2 separate regions of the Homo sapiens genome follow, and region 1 is linked to region 2. Evidence: fine-mapped expression QTL. A gene starts in region 2. The other region holds a variant in brackets. All regions are shown on one strand. Distances are between the middles of the regions.

Region 1 (12,155 bases), 46 kb after region 2:
TAAAATAATTACAATGTCCAAAGAACAACTAAGCTTTGATTGAAATACTTTTTTGTCCCACAAAACAATACGAGTTGTTGGCAAAAAATTATGTAATTTAACTAGCTTTCAGAATCTGTTTAACCTACTAATCTAATTCATTATAATTTTCAGACTAAATAAACTTGAAGATACTATTACACTAATTAAAGGAAAGATTGAAGAAGTTCATCTTCCTGTAGAAAAAGTAGATGTTATCATATCTGAGTGGATGGTGAGTGTTTATAGAAAAAACTACTTTCACTGGTAAAATGAAAAAACTTTTTTAAAGTAATAGTTTTCATGAATTTAATTATATTTGATACATGGCAGAATGGTGACATTATTTTTTAAGTAGCTACATTAGATACTATAATGTGTAATTTAAAAAAATAGCTACAGTCTTCTTACTGTAGTTTATTCTGAAATGGCCCTTATTTATTGGCTATTCATAATCTTTAAAAAGTGATAAATTATCTTTTTTATCTTAAAAGTCCTGATAAATTATTTTTCTACTTTCTAAGTTTTAGATACCTAAGTGTTTGCCTGAAAGCCTCCAGGGACTAATAAGAACTCATTAGGACTGTTTCATCAAAATTAACATGATATTGCCACCATTATCATACTGAATGTCCTATCTTTCTAATCTGTTGGGCCATGTAATCAATGTCCATTATCACATAAAATAGAATTTATTGCTGTTACTGAAATATTAAAAGGAAGGTATGTTACATAGCTTTATAATTTGCTGTTGAAATCTTTTGTCAAGACAGAATGTTTATTTTTAAATATATGGAAATAAAATTAATGGAGTCTGGGTATGGTGGCTCACACCTTTAATCCCAGCACTTTGGGAGGCTGAGGCAGGTGGATCACCTGAGGTCAGGAGTTTGAGACCAGCCTGGCCAACGTGATGAAACCCCATCTCTACTAAAAATACAAAGATTAGCTGGGCGTAGTGGCAGGCACCTGTAATCCCAGCCACTTGGGAGGCTGAGGCAGGAGAGTGGCTTGAACCCAGGAGGTTGGAGGTTGCAGTGAGCCAGGATCACGCCACTGCACCCCAACCTGGGTGACAGAGCGAGACTCCACCTCGAAAAAAAAAATGTATTTGACAGCTGATTTGACTTACTGATATGTCAATTTGACAGAAATAAACTGGATAGTGTTTCTAATAAAGATTTTTAAATTATTTTGAAATAATTTTTTTCCTTAAAGTTCTGTTTGGTAGATATATTTTCATAAAATTTATCAAAAAATTTTGAAAACATTGAGTTTTGCTTTATAATTTTTTATAAATTTTGAATAAACATAGTTATAATCCTAGTGAAATAGATGTTTCAAGGAACTTTTGGAATATTCAGATTTAATGTAGTAGTGTAGGGAGTTCCAGTCTAGAGCTGATGACAGTCACAGTTGTTGACAGTTACTATTTTGTATGTGAAACAGTATGTTGATTTTTTTTTTAATGCTAAGATTGGCCTTAAACAACCTTTAGTCACAATATCAGTATTCTCACACCAAAGAATTTGTATCAGCACTCTGATTTCTCATGAATTGAAAGAGTAGATATGAATTAAAAATGTAATATTTCTTTAAAGACTATGAAAAGATGCTTCTGAGAAAGCACATTTGAGGCATATAGACAAGAATTTTAAATAGTTTATGCTGTATATTTTACTCTTCTTAGAAAATGCATCTTTTAAATTACTCCAAAATAGACTTTATAGGCAAACCAAAAGAAAGACTTGTCCAAACTTCCTGTTACCTCAGTTGAACATTATTATATATCTGATTACAATAACTAATGGGATAGTTCTTGCTCTGCCTAGCAGAATTATACTGCTGGATATTGATGTTCTAGGATTTTTCACTTCCAAATCTGAAAGATGATCTAGAATTATTAATAGGCAATTGATATCTTAGAGCCAGCTGGTTTAATAACTGCAGTTAGCTGGATTGAATGAATTCATGAGATTGTCTTTATGATGTGAACTTTATTGAAAGTTGTACTGGAATCCATTTTGTACCCTTCTGCTTTCTTCTGTACCAAGGAGGGCTAACCCTGCAGGCTGCCTTTACCAAGCTCCTATGATGGCTAACTTCTGCTGAGTTTGGGGAACCCAATGGGAAACACTAGAAACACTAAATCTCCCAAGATTTAAGAAAGGGAGAAGCCAGGGCATTTCTTCCCTTCTTACTTTATCTCTAGTGTGTTGCTGGCAAAAGCTATTTCTTTTGTGGTTCCACTTCCCACCGAACAGGCATGCTGAAATTCCAGCATCCACTGTGCAACCCCAGCCCTGGGTTCTTGTAGCAGTAGCCTAGGAATGCTAGTTACTTGTGGGCATTGTCAAGTCTGGTTGTCTCACTCTCTTGATGACTGCTCATATCTTTTATCCTCTGTATAAGTGACTTTTGACATTAAATTTCCTCTATTTTAAATAGCTTTTGTGGTTTCTCTTTTCCTAGTTTGTGCTTGTAACTCAGCAGTCCCTAGACTTCTTGGCACCAGGGTCCAGTTTCATGGAAGACAGTTTTCCCATGGATTGGGGGATGGGGATGGGATGGTTTCAGGATAAAACTGTTCCATCTCACATCATTAGATTCTCATCAGGAGCATACAGTCTAGATCCTTCACTTGGGCAGTTCACAATAGGGTTCACGCTCCTGTGAGAATCTAATGCCACTGCTGATCTGACAGGAGGCGGAGCTCAGGTGGTAATGCTGGCCTGCCACTCACCTCTTGCTGTGTAGTCCAGTTCCTAACAGGCCACGGACCAGTACCCATCCCTGGCTTGGGGGCTGGGGACTTGCTCTAACTGAAATAAAGAACACCTTTCACTTCAGAGCGTTGGTCAGGTAAGACCTCTCTCTTCATCAGGAAGGCAGTCACTGGAGTCACTGGAGCCTGAGATGAAAGGAGCCAGTTGTTTGGAAGCCAAGGTTCTTCGAAACCAGTAATGAAAAACAAATCAGTGTATTCAGGAAGGGATAACTAAGAACTTTTCTTCTTCCTCACCACAAAGGTGTTACTTAAGCATTTGTATTATCTCACTGTCTGCCTTTCCTTGTTTTAAGTGAGTTGAAGTCTAGCAACTGTTTTAAGTGCTCTAGGTGGGGCATTGGACACTAAACTTACAGCAGTTATTCTATGGCAGTCAGCTCTGGATGGCCTTATTTCTCTGGTGAAATTTGCATTTAAGGCTTAAGAAGGCTTGTGCTAAATTATTTTCAATCATCTTTGTGGATTGGAAATATCATTTATGGTATCTTCTAAATCCTAGAAGTCCCTAACTTTATTTGGTACTTTCATTAGGATTTTTGATTTGAGAAGCTGGAAAACATCAATTACATAATTAAACAAAGGGCAGGTATGCTTTCTAAACTTTATCCTCCATGTTTCAGGCGCATTGGCTGAAACAGTAGGCAAATGGTAAACAACTATTTTAAATCTGTAGCCACATTTTCATGAACCAGCATTTTAAACTTAAATTGCACAGACTCCTGTCTTTATTTATTTTATTTTTTACATACAACATAATAAAGATGCAAAAATCTAGAATGAACCATAGTTAAGCATTTTTTTTCTCTTTTTACAAGTATTTTCAACAAGGAAAGACAAAAATAGAATATACCCTCCAGAATTGGGCACAGATGTTTAATGGATGTGTAATCCGGTATAGCAGTGTAGAAATCATATAGCAGAGATGTACATGTTTTCTTCTACTGTGGTCCACTAACTATTCCATGGCTTAATCTAAATATGTTTCTAGTCTGCACCTGTTCATGAATTTTTGTCTTTATTTTGGAAGATTTTTCTAGATAAGAATGTAATTTTAAAAGCTAAATTATTGCTGTTAGCATGTTATTTAATAAACAATCACTTGGCTTGCATTAACAAATTTCCAGTTCTAGGCTTGCCTTTAATTTTATATTTTCATTTTTGTTTTTATTTAAGAGAAGTTTTCTTTTTATTTTATATATTTAAGGTGTACAACATGATGTTTTGATTTACACAGTGAGATTATTACTGCTGTCAAATTAACATGTCTGTCATCTCACATACTTACCTGTCTTTCTGTATGTAATAAGAGCACCTAAAATCTATTCTCTTAGGAAATTTTTCATATACAATACAATATTACTAACTGTAGTCATCATGCTCTACATTTTCATTTTTATCAGATGGAATTTCTGTTTGACAAAATTGTTTCAGTTAAATGTAAACAGTTTAATCCCTGGAAGATGTTAATACCTATGTCTTTGTGTATGTGTCCTCATTTTTTACATTTTAGTCTACCAATAGAAGTTCTTGTTTTGAGAGCTGTTCTTTATTGCTTCTTATTTCTGCCTACTTAATAAAACTGTTCAAAATAAGCATCCCTAATTCCGACTCAGTAAGCCAAATTGACTCATTTGGTGTTGCTATATTTCCTCTATGTTTTCAGCATAACTTTGCAAACACATAGACTAAGTCCACGAGGCTTAGCATTAGTAAATGATGACGGAATGTGAATTGTAAAATTGTAAGAGAACGTTCCCAAACAGAAATTCGCTGGCCTCAGACATTTATAATTTTATGTACAATACATGAAGGCATGGAGATATAGTATATGACAGGGTTAAGAATGTTGCTCCAGAGGCAAACTACCTCCATTCTTGGGCATGTTACCTCTCTGTGCCTCAGTTTCCTTCTCTATAAAATGAAAATAACAGTATTACCTACTTCATAAGGTTTTTTTGTGAGGATTAAATGAGTTAATACATGCAAATTTCTTAGAACAGTTTCTGGCACATAAGATCTCAATAACTTAGGTATTCAGTTTTGAAAGTTATACAAACTTTTAAGTACTCTGTAACTCATGAGCGAGCTACTACACTAGCTAATTCAATAAATAACAGTTGAAAATAATCATATACATGAAATAAAGAATATTAATTCTTGGAGGAAGAACATTCTTAGGGCTTCTCCCTTGCTTAAAGCCCTTTGTAAAAGCGGAAGACTTTCTCTTTCCATGTCTAGCATTTACTAATTGACTGTCTGTGGTTGGTATACAGAAGTATGAAAGTAAGCTGATGGATGTGAGTTATTGGGATTTGGGGTATTCTTGGTATTTTTCTTAATGTTAGTTGAATCAAAATGTACTTTATGTATATTTCAAGCATAATTCTCAGTTTGCTGCCTTGGAAACAATTTTTAGGCAGTGCTGACAATGCCTAATAATTTTAGATAAAATATAAAATTCCCATTCCGCAGTACTGTTTTCTAGTACTGTTAAGTATTAACAGGGAGATATTTATAGTACTTGAACAATGAAAGAAAAGTTGTGGTTCATATTTTTTCATAGATATGCTAACATCTGAATCAAGAATAAAATGAAAGCAAAGGGAATAGAAATGTAATAGGTCCCTTGTGTATAATTATTTTGGTCTTATAATCTATATTTTTGTTCTTGTCTGTGCTCTTAACCACTTCCTAGCCTTTCTTTTATTCAATCTTCGATAAGTGACAAAGTATTCTAATCATGAATATTAAAAGGTTAAGTTATTCAGGAACATGAATCAACTGCCCTTACAAACATTTTTCAGGTAATCCCTCAGAGAACACAAAATATTTGTTAATTTTTATTTTAAACTCTAAAATTGTATAACAACTTAAAAATATTTTATCAGTAATACTGTTT[A/G]CTTCTACCTGGGAGTAAAAGTAAACCCTTCAAATTTACAGCTTACATTTGTAGGCACATAAGCATTTATTATAAATACAAATTGTCTCCTATAAACTGTATATTGTGTATATATGTCACATTTTTTTTGTCCATTCAACTCTTAATAGACACTTAGGTTGATTCTGTATCTTGGCTATTGTGAATAGTGCTGTTATAAATGTGGGAGTACAGACATTTCTTTGACATTCTGTTTTCCTTTCTTTTGAATATGTATACCCGGTAGTGTGATTGTTGGATCATATAATAGTTCTATTTTTAGTTTTTTGGGGAACCTCTATACTCTTTTTCATAATGGCTGTACTAATTTATATTCTTACCAACAGTGTATAAGAATTCTCCTTCTCTGCATCCTTGCATCCTTATTTTGTCTTTTTGATAACAGCCGTTCTAACTGGCATGAAATAATATCACATTATAATTTGTTTGCATTTTCCTGATGGTTAGTAATGTTGAGCATTTTTTAATATACCTGCTGGCCTTTTATATGTCTTCTTTTGAGAGATGTCTATTCAGTTTATTTGCCCATTTTTGATCAGATTATTTGGGTTTTTGCTGTTGAGCTCTTTATATATTCTGGATATTAATCTCTTACTGGATAAATAATTTGCAAATATTTTCTCCCATTCTGCAGATTATCTCTTTACTCTTTTGTTTTCTTTTCTGTGCAGAAACTTTATTTACTTTTTTAGTGGCTTTTTTTTTCTTTCAGATCTGGGAATACATATACAGGTTTGTTATTTAGGTAATAACTTGTGCCATGGGGGTTTGTTGTACAAATTATTTCATCACCTAGGTACTAAGCCTAGTACCCAATAGTTATTTTTTTTTTACTCATCTCCCTTCTCCCAACCTCTACCCTCAAGTAGGCCCCAGTGTCTGTTGTTCCCTTCTCGTATTCGTGAGTTCTCATCATTTAGCTCCCACTTATAAGTGAGAACATGTGGTATTTGGTTTTCTGTTGCTGTATTAGTTTGCTAAAGATAATGGCCTCCAGCTCCATCCATGTTCCCACAAAAGACATGATCTCATTCTTTTTTATGGCTGCAATAGTATTCTATGGTGTATCTGTGACACCATTTTCTTTATCCACTCTGTCACTGATGGATGTTTAGGTTGATTCCAATTCCGTATCTTTGTTATTGTGAATAATGCTGCAATGAACATTCATGTGCATCTTGCTCTTTATGGTAGAATGATTTTTATTTCTCTGGGTATATACCCAGTAATGGAATTGTTGGGTCACAAGGTAGTTCTGTTTTGTTTTGTTTTTGTTTTTTTTAAGATAGGGTCTCACTCTGTCTCCCAGGCTGGAGTGCAGTGGTGCAGTCTTGTCTCACTGCAACCTCCACCCCCCAGGTTCAAGCAATTCTCCAACCTCGGCCTCCAGAGTAGCTGGGACTACAGACATGTACCGCCGTGCTGGCTAATTTTTGTATTTTTGGTAGAGATGAGGTTTCACCATGTTGGCCAGGCTGGTCTTGAACTGCTGACTTCAAGTGATCTGCCCACCTCGGCTTCCCAAAGTGCTGGGATTATAGGCGTGCACCACCACACCTGGCCTGGTAGTTCTGTTTTTAGCTCTTTGAGGAATTACCATACTGCTTTCCACAATGTTTGACCTAATTGACACTCAGACAGTGTTTAAGTGTTGCCTTTTCGCCTCAATCTTGCCAGCACCGTTATTTTTTCACTTTTTAATAATAGCCATTCTGACTGGTGTGAGATGGTATCTCATTGTGATTTTGATGTTCATTTCTCTAATGATCAGTGATATTGAGCTTTTCTTCATATGCTTGTTGGCCACATGCATGTCCTCTTTAGAAAAGTGTCTCTTCATGTCCTTTGCCCACCTTTTAATGGGGTTGTTTGCTTTTTGTATAAATTTGTTTAAATTCCTTATAGATGCTGGTTATTAGACCTTTGTCAGATGCATAGTTTGCAAATATTTTCTTGCATTCTAAGGGTTGTCTGTTTACTCTGTTGATGGTTTCTTTTGCTGTGCAGAAGCTCTTTAGTTTAATTAAACCCTATTTGTCAGTTTTTGCTTTTGTTGCAATTGCTTTTGGCATCTTTGTCATGAAATCTTTGCCTGTTCCTATGTCCAGGATGGTATTGCCTAGGTTGTCTTTCGGGGTTTTTATAGTTTTGGGTTTTACATTTAAGTCTTTAGCCCATCTTGAGTTGAAAGGAAGGGGTCTAATTTCAGTCTTCTGCATATAGCTAGGCAGTTATCCCAGCACCATTTAGTGAATAGGGAGTCCTTTCCTCATTGCTTGTTTTTGTCAGCTTTGTTGAAGATTAGATTGTGATCTTCAATCCGATTGAAGGTTGTGGGTGTGTGGCTTTATTTCTGGGTCCGCTGTTCTGTTCCATTGGTCTATGTGTCTGTTTTTGTACCAGTACTGTGCTGTTTTTATTACTGTAGCCCTGTGGTATAGTTTGAAGTTGGGAAATGTGAAACCTCCAGTTTTGTTCTATTTGCTTAGGATTGCCTTGGTTATTTGGACTGTTTTTTGGTTCCATATGAATTTTAAAATAGTTTTTCCTAGTTCTGTGAAGAATGTCATTGGTAGTTTGATAGGAATAACATTGAATCTATACATTGCTTTGGGCAGTGTGACCATTTCAATGATATTGATCCTTCTACTCATCTGCATGGGATTTTTTTGTAAAAGCTATTTAATTTGGTATAATCCCATTTGTCTGTTTTTGCTTTTGTTGTTTGTGCTTTTGAGATCATCTCCACAAAATCTTTGCCCAGACTAATGTCCTGAAGCGTTTCCCCTATGTTTTCTTCTATTAGTTTAATAATCTAAAGCCTTACATTTAAATATTTAATCCATTTTTAGTTGATATTTTTTTAATTCATTTATTTTCTGTCGCCCAGGCTGGAGTGCAGTGGCACCATCTCAGCTCACCGCAACCTCTGCCTCCTGGGCTCAAGCAATCCTTCCACCCCAGTATCCTGAGGAGCTGGGACTACAGGTGTGCGCCACTATACCCAGCTAATTTTTGTGTTTTCAGTAGAGATGGGGTTTTGCCATATTGCCCAGGATGGTCTTGAACTCCTGGGCTTAAGCCAGCCACCCACGTCAGCCTCCCAAAGTACTAGGATTACCGCGCTCAGACCATTTTTAGTTGATTTTTGTATATGGTAGGAGATAGGGATCTAGTTTGATTTTTGTTTGTTTGTTTGTTTGCATATGGATATCCATTCTTCTCAACAATTGAAGAGACTGTCCCTTCTCCAATAAATGTTTTTGGTACCTTTGCCAAAAATCGGTTGGCTGTAAATGCATGGATTTATTTCTGGGTTCTCTATTCAGTTATTTTGGTCTATGTGTCTGCTTTTATGCCAATATCATGCTGTTTTGGTTACTATAGGTTGTTGACATCAGGAATTGTGATGCCTCCAGCTTTGCCGTTTTTGCTCAGGATCACTTTGGCTATTCAGGATCTTTTGTGGTTTCATGCAAGTTTTAGGGTTGTTTATTTCTACGAAGAATGTCATTGGTATTTTGTTACACTGAATCTGTAAATCACTTTGGCCAGTATGGTTATTTCAACAGTATTAATTCTTCCAATTCATAAGCATGGGATCACTTTCCATTTTTGGTGTGTTCCCTTCAATTTCTTTCATCAGTATTTTGTAGTTTTCATTGTAGAGATCTTTCAACTCTTTGTTTAAAGTTATTCCTAAGTATTTTATTTTACTGTAGTTATATAAATGGGATTGCTTTCTTGATTTCTTTATTACTTCCCCTGGGTATAGAAATGCTACTGATTTTTGAATATTGATTTTGTATCATTCAGCTTTATTGAATGTGTTTGTCAGCTCTAAGAGGTTTTTAGATTTTCTGTATAAGATCATGTCGTCTTCAAACAGGAACAATTTGTCTCCCTTCTTTCCAATTTGGATGTCCTTTATTTCTTTCTCTTGCCTGATTGCTCTGGCTAGTATTATGTTGAATAAAAGTGGTGAAAGTGGACATCCTCATCTTATTCCATATCTAAGAGGAAATGGTTTGAACTTGTCCCCATTCAGTATGTTGTTGGTTGTGGGTTTGTCATTGATGGCCTGTATTGTGTTAGGTACGTTCCTTCTATGCCTAACTTGTTGAGAGTATTTATCATGAAGGGATGTTGAATTTTATCAGATGCTTCTCTGTGTCTTTTGAGATGATCATATGGCTTTTGTCCTTCATTTTGTTGAAGTATCATGTTTATTGACTTGTGTACATTTTGTCATCCTTGCATATCTGGGATGAATCCCACTTGATCATGGCAAGTGATCTTCTGATGTGCCACAAGATTTAGTTTGCTTGTATTTTGTTAAGGACTTTTACATCTGTGTTCATCTGGGATATTGGCCTGCAGTTTGTTTTTTTTTTTAATAGTGTCTTTAACTGATTTTGTTATCTATATAATGCTAACCTCATAGAATGAGTTTGGAAGAAATCCCCCCTCTTGATTTTCTGGAAGAGTTTGAGAGTAATCGGTGTTAGTTCTTTAAGGGTTTGGTACAATTTAGCAGTGAAAGCATCGGGTCCTGAATTTTTCTTTGATAGACTTTTTATTACAGATTCAATCTAGTTACTTGTGTTCTGTTCAGATTTTCTATTCCTGGTTCAATCTTGGTAGGTTGTATGTGTCCAGGAATGTATCCATTTCCTCTAGGTTTTCCAATTTGTTAGCATATAGTTGTTCATCATAGTCTCTAATAAACATTTATAATTCTATGGTATCTATTTTAATGTCTCTTTGTTTCTGATTTTATTTATTTTGGTGTTTTCTCTTTTTTTTTCTTGGTTAGTCTAGCTAATGGTGTGTCAATTTTGCTTATCTTTTTTAAAAACCAGGTTTTCTTATTGATCTTTTGTATTTTTTAAGTCTCAATTTTGTTCATTTCTGCTCTGACCTTTGTTATTTCTTTCCTTCTACTTTGCTTTTCTAGTTGTTTGAGATGCATCATTAGGTTTTGTATTTGAAATCATTCAACTTTTTTGATGTAGACATCTGGTGGAGCAGTTGCCTTTTCTAGACTTCCTAGTGTTGCAAAGGGAAAGATTAGTGTTCCAGTTGGGAATGGTGTGGTGAGTATGTTTCCAGATAGGTGCAGTGGTATAGTCTCTTTGCAGCTTCTTGACCTGTGTTCAACATCAGCAATAATATGAGTGACTCAGTGGTATAGGCTGTAGAAGTTTGTGGCAGTGGTGGCAGCAGCATAGTTTTTTTTGTTGTTATTTTTGAGACGGAGTCTCGCTCTGTTGCCCAGGCTGGAGTGCAGTGGTGCGATCTCGGCTCAATGCAAGCTCCGCCTCCCTGGTTCATGCCATTCTCCTGCCTCAGCCTCCCGAGTAGCTGGGACTACAAGCACTCGCCACCATGCCCGGCTAATTTTTTGCATTTTTAGTAGAGACAGGGTTTCACCATGTTAGCCAGGATGGTCTCAATCTCCTGACCTCGTGATCCGCCCGCCTCGGCCTCCCAAAGTGCTGGGATTACAGGCGTGAGCCACTGCGCCCGGCCGGCAGCAGCATAGTTTTTAAGGTACTCAGTTGCAGCAGTTTGGGAGATCCTCATGTTTTCATTTTTCCTACAATAGGAAGACTTAGCTGACCCTGCTGTTAGGTCTGACATGGTCTACAAGCAGCAGCAGTGGTGCTTGGAGCAGCAGTGGGGCCACAGTACTGCATCAGAATCCCATGAACCTTTTGTGTTACCTGGGTCTTTGGGTGCAGATTCACCCTCTGTGGCAGGGTTGGATGTAAGTTTCCCACAAGAACTAGGATCTGTGACAATGGAGGCACCCTCCAGCAGCTCGGAACCAGAGGGCTCAGTTGTAACTGTGGTTTTACTCAAGCCACAGCACTGGCCTGACCCTGGGGAAGCAGGGATGTTCTGGAGGTTTGGGCTGGGGGAGCAGGGTACACTGTACAGTAGTGACTTTAGACACTGGGATGGTGGGTGTTGGCTGTATCCCAGACTCTGTGAGGCTGGGTGCAGCAGCAGCAAGTACCCTAGAATGGTGGAGCTCAGCTGTCATTTGGGCCCTAAGGGTGGCAGGTGGCCTAAAGGCACAGTGATGACTCTACTTCCCAAGGAAAGGGGTGTCTCTGCAACTCGGACTCGTGGGGGTTAGTCTAGCTTCAGGCAAGCAGGGTACTAGAGTCATTGTGTAGGGTGGGGTGTCTCAGCTCAGCCACTGCTCTTGTTTCCCTGGGATGCAGCATACTGCATCAGCTCAGCCCTGGGATGCACAGATGCTTAGCTTAGCCAGGTCACTGATTTCCCAGAGGGTGATAATCCACTTCACCATAGACCTGTGGGGCATTACTGTTCTGGGCAGCCCAGGTTCCATTTCTCATGATACTGGGTGCTACTTCAGCTTACCAAATGGGGTCGTGG
Region 2 (12,155 bases):
TGAAATATTTTAAAACTTAGATCGTGATGAAGGTTACAGAGTTCTGTGTATATACTAAAAACCACCTATTAAAAAAAAAAGAATGGCCAAGCGCGGTGGCTCTCGCCTGTAATCCCAGCACTTTGGGAGGCTGAGGCGGGTGGATCACTTGAGGTCAGGAGTTCGAGACCAGCCTGGTCAACATGGTGACAACCCCGTCACTACTAAAAATACAAAAATTAGCCAGGCATAATGGCGGATGCCTGTAATCCCAGCTACTTGGGAGGCCGAGGCAGGAGAATTGCTTGAACCTGGGAGGTGGAAGTTGCAGTGAGCCAAGATCATGCCCTTGCACTTCAGCCTAGGTGACATGGTGAGACTCTATCACACACAAAAAATACATAAATAAATAAATAATTAAAATTAAAAAATTTTTAAAAAGAAAAAGATATTTAAAAATAGCTACTTAAATGTCTGTGATGAGACAGGTTAAGTGCCAATTGAGTGGTACACACAGGCCAAGAAGGAGGCGTGCATGACCGTGTGGTAGTTCACAGGCCTTTGGAAGTGCCTGTGGGCTGAGCTCCTCAGGCATTTTGTTTCCAGAGATGCCTGCCATGAAAATGCATGCTTTATTTAACAAATTAGATTTAAAGCATCATCTAGATGTAATCTGTCTTAAAATTTTGTGAGGTTTAAGAAGTGAGTAATATAGTGGGTCTATGGTTTTCTGACCCACTGGAACTACCTATAAACCAAAAAAACGTTAGTGTCTGCTAGCATGCAACATGAATTCTGGACTAAATAGAGGATATTCTTTTATGATTGTACTAACGTATGACTTACCCTCTCTGAATCTGTTTTAATATCAATAAAGTGAGAGGACTGACTATGCAGCCATTCACTCATTTAGTGGATCTTTTAAATGAAAGACTACACATCAGGATTAAATGATCTCTTCCTTAATTTCCCAGACTCCTTGGAACCTAAAATTCTAGATAAGGATATTTTGAGTATTGAGATCTGCAAAAGCAGATTATCTCAAAACCACAAATTATTCTCTCTTAAACTTCACACAGGTGAGCTGGTCGCGATTAAATACTGAAAATGTGTTTTTTCTTAATAGGGAGAAGTAGAAGCCAAGGTTGAAGAATTAAAATTTGATCGTTACTCTGTATTTAGGCCTGGGTAAGTATAATATTTATACTGAATGAGAGTATGCCACTGATGGTTAATCCCTAGATACTAATTTTTCATTTGGAAAGGCTGACAGCTGAAATATCTAAGATATGAAAGACATTGGCTAGAGGTAGATTGCTTCTCTGAAGGACACACCTTTTTGCTTAGAAAGAAAGGGTAGATGGTGGGGCCTGCTTCAGAATAGTCTGGAACTTCCTGGACAGCATTTGCTGCCTTCTTAAATCCTCTTCATGTGCCAAATAAAACCTTACGTCTACTGTATTAGTCTGCTTGGGTTGCCATAACAGAATACCACACAGATTGGGTGTCTTAAACAACAGAAATTTTTTTTCACGCAGTCTGGAGATTGGAAGTCCAAGATCAAGGTGCCCTCAGGGTTGGTGTCCGGTGAGGCCTCTTTTCCTGGCTGGCAGACAGACCACCTTCTGGCAGTGTCCTCACATGGCCTTTCTTCTTAGTGTATGCAGACAGAGAGAGACCTCTGATGTCTCTTCCTCTTATGAGGACCCCAGTCCCATCACACTAGTCCTATTCCATCCTTAAGACCTCATTAAACTTAATTACTTCCCTTAATGCCTTATCTTCAAATATAGACACCTTGGGGATTAGGGCTTCAACATTAGAATATTGAGGGGATACAGTTTTGTCCGTAATGCCCACTGTGGTCTCAGTGCAATTTACCACCTCTTCCTCTGCTTTTCTTTCTTTTTTTTTTTTTTTTATTTTAGAGTTCTGTTATGTGATAGGCAAGAATCTCGCCCAGGTGAATGGCTGGTTAGAAAGTTCTTTGGCTCCTTACCAGACTCTTGGGCCAGTGGGCATTCTGTGCCTGTGGTGACCGTGGTTAGAGCAATGCTGAACAATGTGGTGAGACCAAGAGACAAGCAGATGGAACTGCTGGAGAACAAGGCCATCCATGACCTGGGGAAAGCGCATGGCTCTCTCAAGCCATGACCACATTGGAGAAATGGTTTTTATTGTCAACCTTAACACCCATCACCAAATCGGTAATTTCAGGGTCTAAAAAAAGTCAGCATGTTTTAACTTTGTTGTTTTACTATCCTCAGGCATCCATTCCAATCAAGAAATGATGGTGCTCTGCATCAGTGGTTCAGAGCCTGGTTATACATATAGATCACTCAGGGAGCTTTGGAAAAATAAAGATTTGTCAGCCCTATCTCAAACTTGAATCAAAATTTCTGGGGTGTGGGCACAATAATCTGTAATTTTCTTTGTTTATACTTCCCCTGATGCCACTGGTTCCGATGCCACTGGCTGGGGGGCCTGCTTTGAAATGCTTGTCTGCAGAGTCACAGCAGCCATGAAAACCTTATGACCGTGCAAATGAGCTCTGCTCTAAAATTGTTGACATTCATGTCTCTGAGTTACAAAAGTGCTAATTCACTACATGTAATTGTGTAAGTAAACATTGTGCCTTTACTACTTCTTTATGTAATAGAAGTTATATACCTAAGCTTATATAATACATGGGGAGGATTAAATAAAGGAATAAAGATGAATGGACAACTCCTGGGTGCCTCTTAGATTGCTTGAAAATGCCCATGTAGTGTGATATGCAGCATTTCAGCCTATGGGGTGATATAATAGCAGCTAATATTTACCAAATGCTTGCTAAGTACCAGTCTTTACATGTGTTATCTGTGCTTTAACCCTCTTATAAACAATCCTTATAAAGTGATACTATCATGATCTTCATGTCTTAGATGGGGAAATGAGGCTCACTGTGGTTAAGTGCCTTGCTCAAGAGTCCAAATCTGAAGAACTGAAGCAAAGAAATGGCAGAGTCAGGATTCTAACCCAGGTCTGCCTGATCCCATAGATCCCATATATCGTGTTTTTAAGCACCCTGCAAAAGCATTCTGTTCCCGTATATTTCCAGGTAGTTCCAGTTGATTGTTACTACATGTTGTGGATGAACAAAATCGAAATATTTGGGTTTCTCCTTTGTTCTAGTGATTAATTACTAAATGTTCACATAGCCAGTAAAATTCTATGCCACCAAACTTTAAAGTGCTCATGCTGCTGCACTTTAAAAATTAAGGCAAAGGAAGATGCAGAAGGAAGGGTCAAAGCCAAGAGGAACATACATTGCTAATTTCCATCATAGAACAAAAGATGTTAATGTAACTTGTCTTAACGTCTGCACCAGGGAAGCAAAGTGATTCGAGGGACTCAGTCAATTCTTCCAAGGCCTACTGTATGCCAAGTACATTTCAAGCTTCAGTATACACTGGAGGATAAAGGCCATTCTCCTTAATTTGGAGTGTATATCCTTAGAAGGGAGAAGACATTCCCAGTGTCAGTCACCCAAAAAAGAGGCATATTTTAGGGCAGGGTGGGATATTGAAATGTGAGCTTTAAAAGGAAATGAAATATCTTCCTTCTGCCAGGTGGGGTTCCCTGGGAGTTGGACTTTGAAGAGCCTAAGTGTGTTGTTTTGATGGTGAAAAAGCATGGGCCGAGGATATGTTGAGGCCTCTGGGCTCTGAAAGCAGCTAAACCCAGTGGCCTGTTTTAAGTTATTCTCCTTATATTATTTCCTTACTCACAAACCTTCGAGCAGGTTTCATTCAACATGTTATTCTGGTCTCAGTAGTGATGTGGGATAATGAGGAAGGGTCTGTGTTCACCTTTGGAGTAGAGAGAAAAGCAGCCCTCTCTTGAGCTCTGCATTGTGGTGAGATATGAACTTACTAAGGAACAAGACTCTGGCCCAATCACTCCTCCACAATGGGTGTTAACTTGTTTTATTGTCAACACTGAATGGACTGGGTGTTCCATTTAGTACTAAGGGATTCAGGAAGTTTTCCACCAAATGTTACACAGACAGAAAAAGTTTATGTTGGAAGGATGAAGGGAAAAGTTGGATGGGCCCAGGTAATCAAGTGTTCATTAATTCATTCAGCAAATGCTTATTCAGTGCCTTTCATGTGCCACTGAGCACACAGGCACTGGGGATGCATCCATGAACGATGACTCCAACTCAAGAGAGCCAGCAGCTATTCTGGCAATGTCCTAGGATGTAAGAAAGCTTCAAAATTAATATTTGGGCCGGGTGCGGTCAATCACGCCTGTAATCTCAGGACTTTGGGAAGCCGAGGTGGGCAGATCACTTGAGGTCAGGAGTTCAAGACCAGTCTGACCAACATGGTGAAACCCTGTCACTACTAAAAATATAAAAATTAGCCAGGCATGGTGGTGAGCACCTATAATCCCAGCTACTTGGGAGGCTGAGGCAGGAGAATCGCTTGAACCTGGGAGGTGGAGGTTGCAGTGGGACAAGATCGCACCACTGCACTCCAGCCTGGGCAACCGAGCGAGACTCTGTCTCAAAGAAAAACAAAAACAAAAACTAATATTTAATGGATTCTGTCCTCTAGGAATTTACAATTAAGGGAGAAAAGTACATTTAGAAGTACATTTAGCAATAATATAAGGCATCATTTTTATTCAGTGAATACATTCAGTATCTATTAATACTATGGGCCAGGCCACATATTATGTGCCAGAGAAATGAAAGTAAAGAGACATGGCCCTTACTTACCCTTATTGTTCAGTGCTGTGGGGTATCACCAAAAAAGAAAAAAAAATCAAGTAAGCAAATGGTGGGTGCTAAGAAACTAACAGGATACTCCTGAAATAATGGTGGAAACTATTTTAGAAATGGCCTGAGGAAAGTGTTTCTGGTTGAGACCAAAGGGACCTACCCATGTGTAGAACATTCAATGATTAGCAGTAAATAAAAGGCTTAAGGGTGGGACCCAAGGTGAAGGGTTCCATTGGAAAGAGGCAGGATTATGCAGGGCCTGATAGGCCAATTAGATAAACTCTGCTAGAGCCTGGGGCACTCCCTCCTAAGCAAGAATTCTGGGCCGGGCGGTGGCTCGCGGGCAGGTGGATCACCTGAGGTCGGGAGTTCCAGACCAGCCTGACCAACATGGAGAAACCCTGTCTCTACTAAAAATCCAAAATCAGCCGGACGTGGTGGCGCATGCCTGTAATCCCAACTACTCGGGAGGCTGAGGCAAGAGAATCGCTTGAACCCGGAAGGTGGAGGTTGCGGTGAGCCTGAGATCGTGCCATTGCACTCCAGCCTGGGCAACAAGAGCGAAACTCCGTCTCAAAAATCAAACAAAAAAAAGTTCTATGGTTTGAAGAGATATAAGGAAAGGAAGAAAGGGACGTGGCATGAGGCAGGCAGGGGAACATTTGTGTTCTTCCCCACACAGCAGCCAGATTGTTACTTTCTCAACACATCTGAGAGCATCACTCCCTGGCTTAAATAGTTATGTCTGAGCACTTTACATGTATTAACTCGTTTTATCCTTACTGTAGTTCTGAAGTTAGTCCAGGTTTTTTGTTTTTTGTTTTTTTTTTTTTAAGATGGAGTCTTGCTCTGTTGCCCAGGCTGGAGTACGGTGGCACAATCTCGGCTCACCACAAGCTCCGCCTCCCGGGCTCAAGCAATTCTCCTGCCTCAGCCTCCCAAGTAGCTGGGATTGCAGGCGCGTGCCACCACACCTGGTTAATTTTTGTATTTTTAGTAGGGACAGGGTTTCACCATGTTGGCCAGGCTGGTCTCCAACTCCTGACCTCAGGTGATCCGCCCGCCTCAGCCTCCCAAAGTGCTGGTACTATAGACGTGAGCCACCGTGCCCTGCCCAAGTGCAGTTATTATCCTTGTTTTGTATTTGATGAAACTGAGGCAGAGAGAGGTCGAGTAACTTGCCCAAGATCACAGTTACAAAGTGACGTGGGTAGGATTCAAACCCAGCAGGCTGCCTCTAGAGTTCACGTTCTCACTTAACCAAAGATTAAAATCCGTCTTGGGGGGTTTGACACCTATCTGTCCCTGCAGTAGACCCACCCTGGCCCATGCAGTTCGTTCCCTCTCGCCAGCTGCACCCCCTCCAGGACCTGGGAGCCCAGAAACCAGCCGAGCCTCCAGCGTTTGGCCTCCTCCGCCACCAGAGGGCGTCATGGGCCGATCGCCCCTCCGCTAACCGCTCATCCCAGGAAAAAGGGGCGCACAGAGGACAGGATGCCAACCCCAAAACCGCAGCGACGTCTCTCTGCCTTGGGGCTCACAGCAGCGGGCCGCGACCTCCCACTAACGCCTGCCGCAACCCAAGGAGGAGACAAAAGTCATCTTCCGGGCTGCAACATTAACCGTCATCAGCGCGCCTCTTCAGCGCGCACTGCGCCAACCCTGCGGCAGGAGGAGGCGGAGCCCCCGCTCTCGCCCCGCCCCCACCTCACGTGACCCGCACGGCGCCTCGAGGCCGGAAGCGATTGCGAGCCAGCGCGCGCGCTTCGGCGTTCCCGGCGGTCTGCGAAGTTTCCGGAGCCCGGGTCCCGCCGCGGGTTCGCGCTTGTGCTCGCGCTCGTTCCTGGAGTCGGCGGCCGCTGCGCGCGCTCGTTGCCCAACCCGGTCCCCGCCCCCAGACACGCCGGGCTCTCGGGGCACCACAGCCATGTGCTCGTTAGCGTCAGGCGCTACCGGTGGGTACCCTGGCCCCTCAGCACCCGGCTCGTCCAGCCCCAGGCCGCGCCGCTGTGGGGCCGGTGGAAGACCCTCCGGGACACGGGCCCGGGCAGGGTGGGGGGCTCGCAGGGATCATGAAGGAGGTGCTGAGTGAGGGCCGCGGGCGAACGGGGCGGAGGAGAGCCCATCGTCACCTGCTCCTCGAGCCCCCGGGCCGCACCGGTGTCCGAGGCCGATCTGATTGTTGTGTGTGTGTGTTAGGCGGCCGGGGCGCTGTGGAGAATGAGGAGGACCTGCCAGAACTGTCGGACAGCGGGGACGAGGCCGCCTGGGAGGATGAGGACGATGCAGATCTCCCCCACGGCAAGCAGCAGACCCCCTGCCTGTTCTGTAACAGGTTCGTCCGCCTCAGCGCCTGGCCTCTGCCCTAGGGTGCCCGGGCGCGTGGGGTCTGTGTGCCCAGGAACGCCTTCGGGCGGGAGGCAAGCCAGAGTGGCCTGTCTTTGAATTCTGGAACCACTGGTCTGGGGTGAGGGCTTGTGGAGAAGGAGGACCCTCGGTAGTAGAGAGGGGGAACCGTGAACTGGAAGGCCGGTTGTACTGCAAGCTTTTGACTGGTAGTGCATTGAATCTGTGGTTCCCAAATCTTGTCACTTGAGACGCTGAAAACAAAATGATACTGAACTCTGCACCTGAATCCTTCCAAGTCAGGGATGGGGTCTAAGAATATTCTGTTTTTATGAGGACAAGATCGGAAGTAACAGTGAAGTTACTAACGAGTTACTACTAACGAGTAACATATTTGGCAGCCACCCTGAACTAGATAATCCCTACGGAGCCTTCCGGCTTTACCATGCTAATTCTTTGACCAGTACAGAGCTTCTCAGGTGAAACATTTCTTTTTTATTTGAGCGGTTTCCATAGTCTAAGAAGGAAGTTCACCTTACTTAAGTAGGACTTTTCACTTAAGGAAAAAGACTGTAGTATCAATAATTTGCTCAAGGTCACAAAGCTGTGGTGTGCTTATTTCCAAACTCACATTCTTGCCACTTAAAATTCTGCCTGTTAGTCTTGGGAAGCTTTGGCTCCTGTCCTAGGCAAGTAGGCATGAAAGAGGCCCGGTTGGCATTGGCCGGTGTTACTTTAATACATTTTCCAGTGTTCCCTGTATCTGGGCATGGTGCTGAGTGGTGGTGCGTTAGTGTTCTCATCTGTAGCCCCATTGGGTAGATAGAATGCCTGTATATATTCTAGTTGTCATAAAATATTTATTGAGCACCAGTGGTACCGTGGCTGTGATAGCCTCCATAAATAGTCGACATAACCTATCTCGGTAAACATTTGTGGAAAACTAATGCTCCACATGTGTTAGGAATATAGATAAGGTATACAGCTTCTCTGCTGTGTATTCCTGTCTTTAAGTAGCCTTCAGATTTGCATGTCACATAATAAAGAGGATTGATCCTCACAGTGTCTGTGATGCAAGTACGTTGGGAATACTACAAGATCACTTTTGAAATAAGGCACTTGGGGAGTATGCCAGCTGTAAAATTACATTTTATGCTTTATTTCTAAAAGCAGTTTGAGCTGTGCCAGTTCAAAGCCTCTGAAAGCAGAGTTGACACTTAGAGGAGAAAAGAATCTCAAGTAGAGAAATTGTATGACTTGAGAGAAACAGACTCTATCAAAGGGAACTCTCTTAAAAGCCTTTTGATAAAATCAGTGATATTATTTGACAAATAAATTCACTTTGACATTTAAAGGATAATTGGTTTTAGGTATAAAATGGGACTCAGAAGTACTAATTCCCTTTAAAAGTGCTGGATTCCCTTCCTTTCAGATACAAGTGTGTTTGTTTTTTCTTAATTGGAAGTAAAACTAGAAACCAGCAGAGTTAAAAAAAAAAAAAAAGTGTATATGTAACATGAAATCAGTATTTAGACTTCTTAGGGGACTATTCCATGAAGCTATTGCTTGATTTTTCAGGTTATTCACATCTGCTGAAGAAACATTTTCACACTGTAAGTCTGAGCATCAGTTTAATATTGACAGCATGGTTCATAAACATGGTGAGTAGTTTTTAGAATAAAGGCAATTTAATTTGTGAAATTTGGGCAGGCATGGCAGCTCACACCTGTAATCCCAGCACTTTGGGAGGCTGAGGTGGGTGGATCACTTTAGGTCGGGAGTTCAAGACCAGCCTGGCCAACATGCTGAAACCCCACCTGTACTAAAATACAAAAGTTATCTGGGTGTGGTGACGCACACCTGTAATAGCAGCTGCTCAGAAGACTGAGGCAGGTGAATTGCTTAAACCTGGGAGGCAGAGGTGGCAGTGAGCTGAGATGGTATCACTGCACTCCAGCCTGGGCAACAGAGTGAGACTCTTCTCAAAAAAAAAAAAAATCTGTGAAATATAAGTTCAGATTTTATAGTTTTTCAGACCCTTTTCTGTACGAGTTTAATATGGCGAATCACACAGCAACATCTTGTGGAAATGGAGTTTTTTTGACAAGCGGTCCTTGAGAAAAGATGAATAAGTCACTCTTCTAGACAAGATTCACTGTATTTAAGCTTATATTAGCTTTTCAACTAAAAACAAAAACAGACTTGGCATGTGATTACATTTTTACATTTTATGTGATTACATATTAGATTTAGGGAGAGCAAGTGTAGATGTAGGACTTGAAAAAGGACGCAGGTCATTTGAAAAAAGACAATCAGCTCAAAGCATGACATGAACTTCACAGCCTACGAGACTGAGTTTTATACAAAGTTCGGTAGAGACTGGAAAAAGAGTGATGAAGTTAAGATTAATATGCAAAATACTCAGGTGATGTTTCTATTGAAACTTTTATTTAAACACACTTGCCTTACAATTAAGGCCTTCCACTTTAAATGGATGTAGAAGAGCTATACTACAATAAAATTAACTAAATAGGCCAGGTGCTGTGGCTCACGCCTGTGATTCCAACACTTTGGGAGGCCAAGGCAGGTGGATCACAAGGTCAAGAGATTGAGACCATCCTGGCTAACCCAGTGAAAACCTTTGGGAGGCCAAGGCGGATGGATCACAAGGTCAGGAGATCGAGACCATCCTGGCTAACCCAGTGAAAACCCAACTCTACTAAAAATACAAAAAATTAGTCGGGCATGGTGGCATGTGCCTGTAGTCCCAGCTACTTGGGAGGCTGAGGCAGGAGAATTACTTGAACCCGGGAGGCGGAGGTTGCAGTGAGCTAAGATCATGCCACTGCACTACAGCCTGGGTGACAGACTGAGACGCCGTCTCAAAAAAAAAAAAATAATAGGTTTTTTGGTCCCTATATTTGTTGACAACTAAGAAGGGACATTACTGAAGAATAGCAAATACTAACAGGTGTTTCAGTGTCAGATAAATACGTGATATCACATGTTTATAAATCATAAATTCAACTGCAAGTACTTTCGTAAGGCATAAATGACAGCCTCATTTTTTAATGTTTTTTGTTTTTGTTTTTTTTTTGAGACGGAGTCTCGCTCTTGTTGCCCAGGCTGGAGTGCAATGGCACGATCTCGGCTCACTGCAACCTCCGCCTCCCGGGTTCAAGTGATTCTCCTGCCTCAGCCTCCCAAGTAGCTGGGATTATAGGCATGCGCCACCACACTGGCTAATTTTGTATTTTAGGAGAGACAGGGTTTCTCCATGTTGGTCAGGCTGGTCTGGAACTCCCGACCTCAGGTGATCCGCCTGCCTTGGCCTCCCAAAGTGCTGGGGTTACAGGCATGAGCCACTGTGCCCAGCCTTAATGTTTTTAATGTTGCATTTCTAAAGTATTAGAATCATACTTAAGATAGAATTTTGTTTTGTTTTTTTTTTACTTACCGATATAGGGGGTTTGTATACTATTAAAGTTTTCTCATAACAAGAGTTTTATGACAAATAATTGGTTGGTTGGATGTATTACTGCTTTCCTTTGTTTTAAATGCTGCTTCATTTCTGGAAAGATACGAGAACCAGATAACAAGCCTTATTGGGCTTGCATCATTTAACTTCATGTAAAAGCTAGTATACACCATGTCCTGGCAAAATTATAATTTGATACACACCATAAAAATTAGGGATTTAATACTTTCAGCTCTGATATCAGTTGCCAAATACTTGGTAAAATGTGGATCTTAATTTTCCAGATTTGTATTGTTCTGACAAAGGAGGAGTAGAATTTTAGAAATCAGTTTTCCATCTTTTTAGAAATACTAGAAAAGCTTTAATTTGTCATTTATGGCTGCTTCTCAAGATATTCAGAAGTATCATTGTATTACTACTTCTAATTCTTAATAAAATTCAAAATATAAGTAGTAATTTAGAGGTCAGAATTATTTTATTGTTTAATCAGAGAAGGCTTTATAGAATAGGTCAGTTAAACAAAACTCATTATGTTAACATAGGTGAATTATCTTTTTCCCCCTTTAGGACTTGAATTTTATGGATACATTAAGCTAATAAATTTTATTAGACTTAAGGTAAGTTGACAGCTTAATTTATAATTTCGTTTAGAAATCAAAGAAATGCTACAGTGACTGTCAGTGTACTGATTATTTAAAAGAATATGAGGAACTGCATTAAATTTGGTACTCATCATATTGGGGGAATCACGGACATTAGGAGGTAGCACAGCAGAAAGCACCATGTAAATGTCTACCATAACTAACAAATATTGTTTTCACTGCATCTAAGAGATGAATCGGTGTATGTGAAAAAGTAATTCAGTGTCAAATAAAGGGAAATACTGATGGACAGGATCTGTAAAATCAGAAATAATTTCTAATGTGATTTTAAGTATTTTGGTTGCTCTTTTTTATTCTGTTTTTTTTCAGATACTTTGTTTTTTTTTTTTTTTGTCCTGTTTAAATGAATGTTTAATGACATGACAACGCTTTCCCCAAATCCAAACAGTAAAAAAAACTCTGCGTTGAAACTGCTGGTTAAGCAGTCGTCCAGCAAGTTAATGAAATGACAGGCACGTAGACTTTTTGGAGACATACTGACTTTGTGTAATGCAAACATGATTTCCTTTTTGTTTAATTTCTGTAGTTTTTACTAAGGGGATTTTGTGATTATATGTAATGAAAAAAACATGAGATTAATTTTATATCCAGAATCCTACAGTTGAGTACATGAATTCCATATACAACCCAGTGCCTTGGGAGAAAGAAGAGTATTTGAAGCCAGTATTAGAAGATGACCTTTTACTTCAATTTGGTAAGATGAACATAAGTGTATCTCCTTTAATTAACATAAGGCCGTTTGTTAACGGCAAAATGGAGGTAGAGTGTTTTAGGAAAAGACATGCTTTTTAAAATTATCTAAATGCTTCATCAGGTAGTTAGTTTCAGTAGAAAAGTTAAGTTGCTTAAAAACTAATAGTCGGCCAGGTGTGGCGGCTCACGCCTGTAATCCCAACACTTTGGGAGGCTAAAAGGGCAGATC

The links. PIP is the estimated chance that this variant, and not a neighbour inherited with it, causes the effect.
Region 1: its variant is fine-mapped to the expression of PRMT3 in whole blood (TOPMed, PIP 0.98).

The regions. Positions count from the first base shown.
Region 1 is chr11:20,426,613-20,438,767 of GRCh38, forward strand. PRMT3 (protein arginine methyltransferase 3) reads left to right here. Exons shown (of 16, transcript NM_005788.4): 10 at 154-253. Among named protein-coding and RNA genes, the nearest start is that of PRMT3, 45 kb to the left of the region's middle. The variant A/G (reference allele first, on the strand shown) is at 5,706.
Region 2 is chr11:20,381,073-20,393,227 of GRCh38, forward strand. PRMT3 (protein arginine methyltransferase 3) reads left to right here and starts at 6,644. Exons shown (of 16, transcript NM_005788.4): 1 at 6,644-6,702; 2 at 6,947-7,082; 3 at 8,672-8,754; 4 at 11,139-11,188; 5 at 11,825-11,927. The coding sequence starts at 6,675. HTATIP2 (HIV-1 Tat interactive protein 2) reads left to right here. Exons shown (of 5, transcript NM_001098522.2): 4 at 1,106-1,167; 5 at 1,908-2,710. The coding sequence ends at 2,133. RefSeq lists silencers at 3,838-4,038, 6,355-6,914 and enhancers at 3,971-4,472, 6,352-6,521, 6,395-7,002, 7,003-7,609, 7,465-7,514.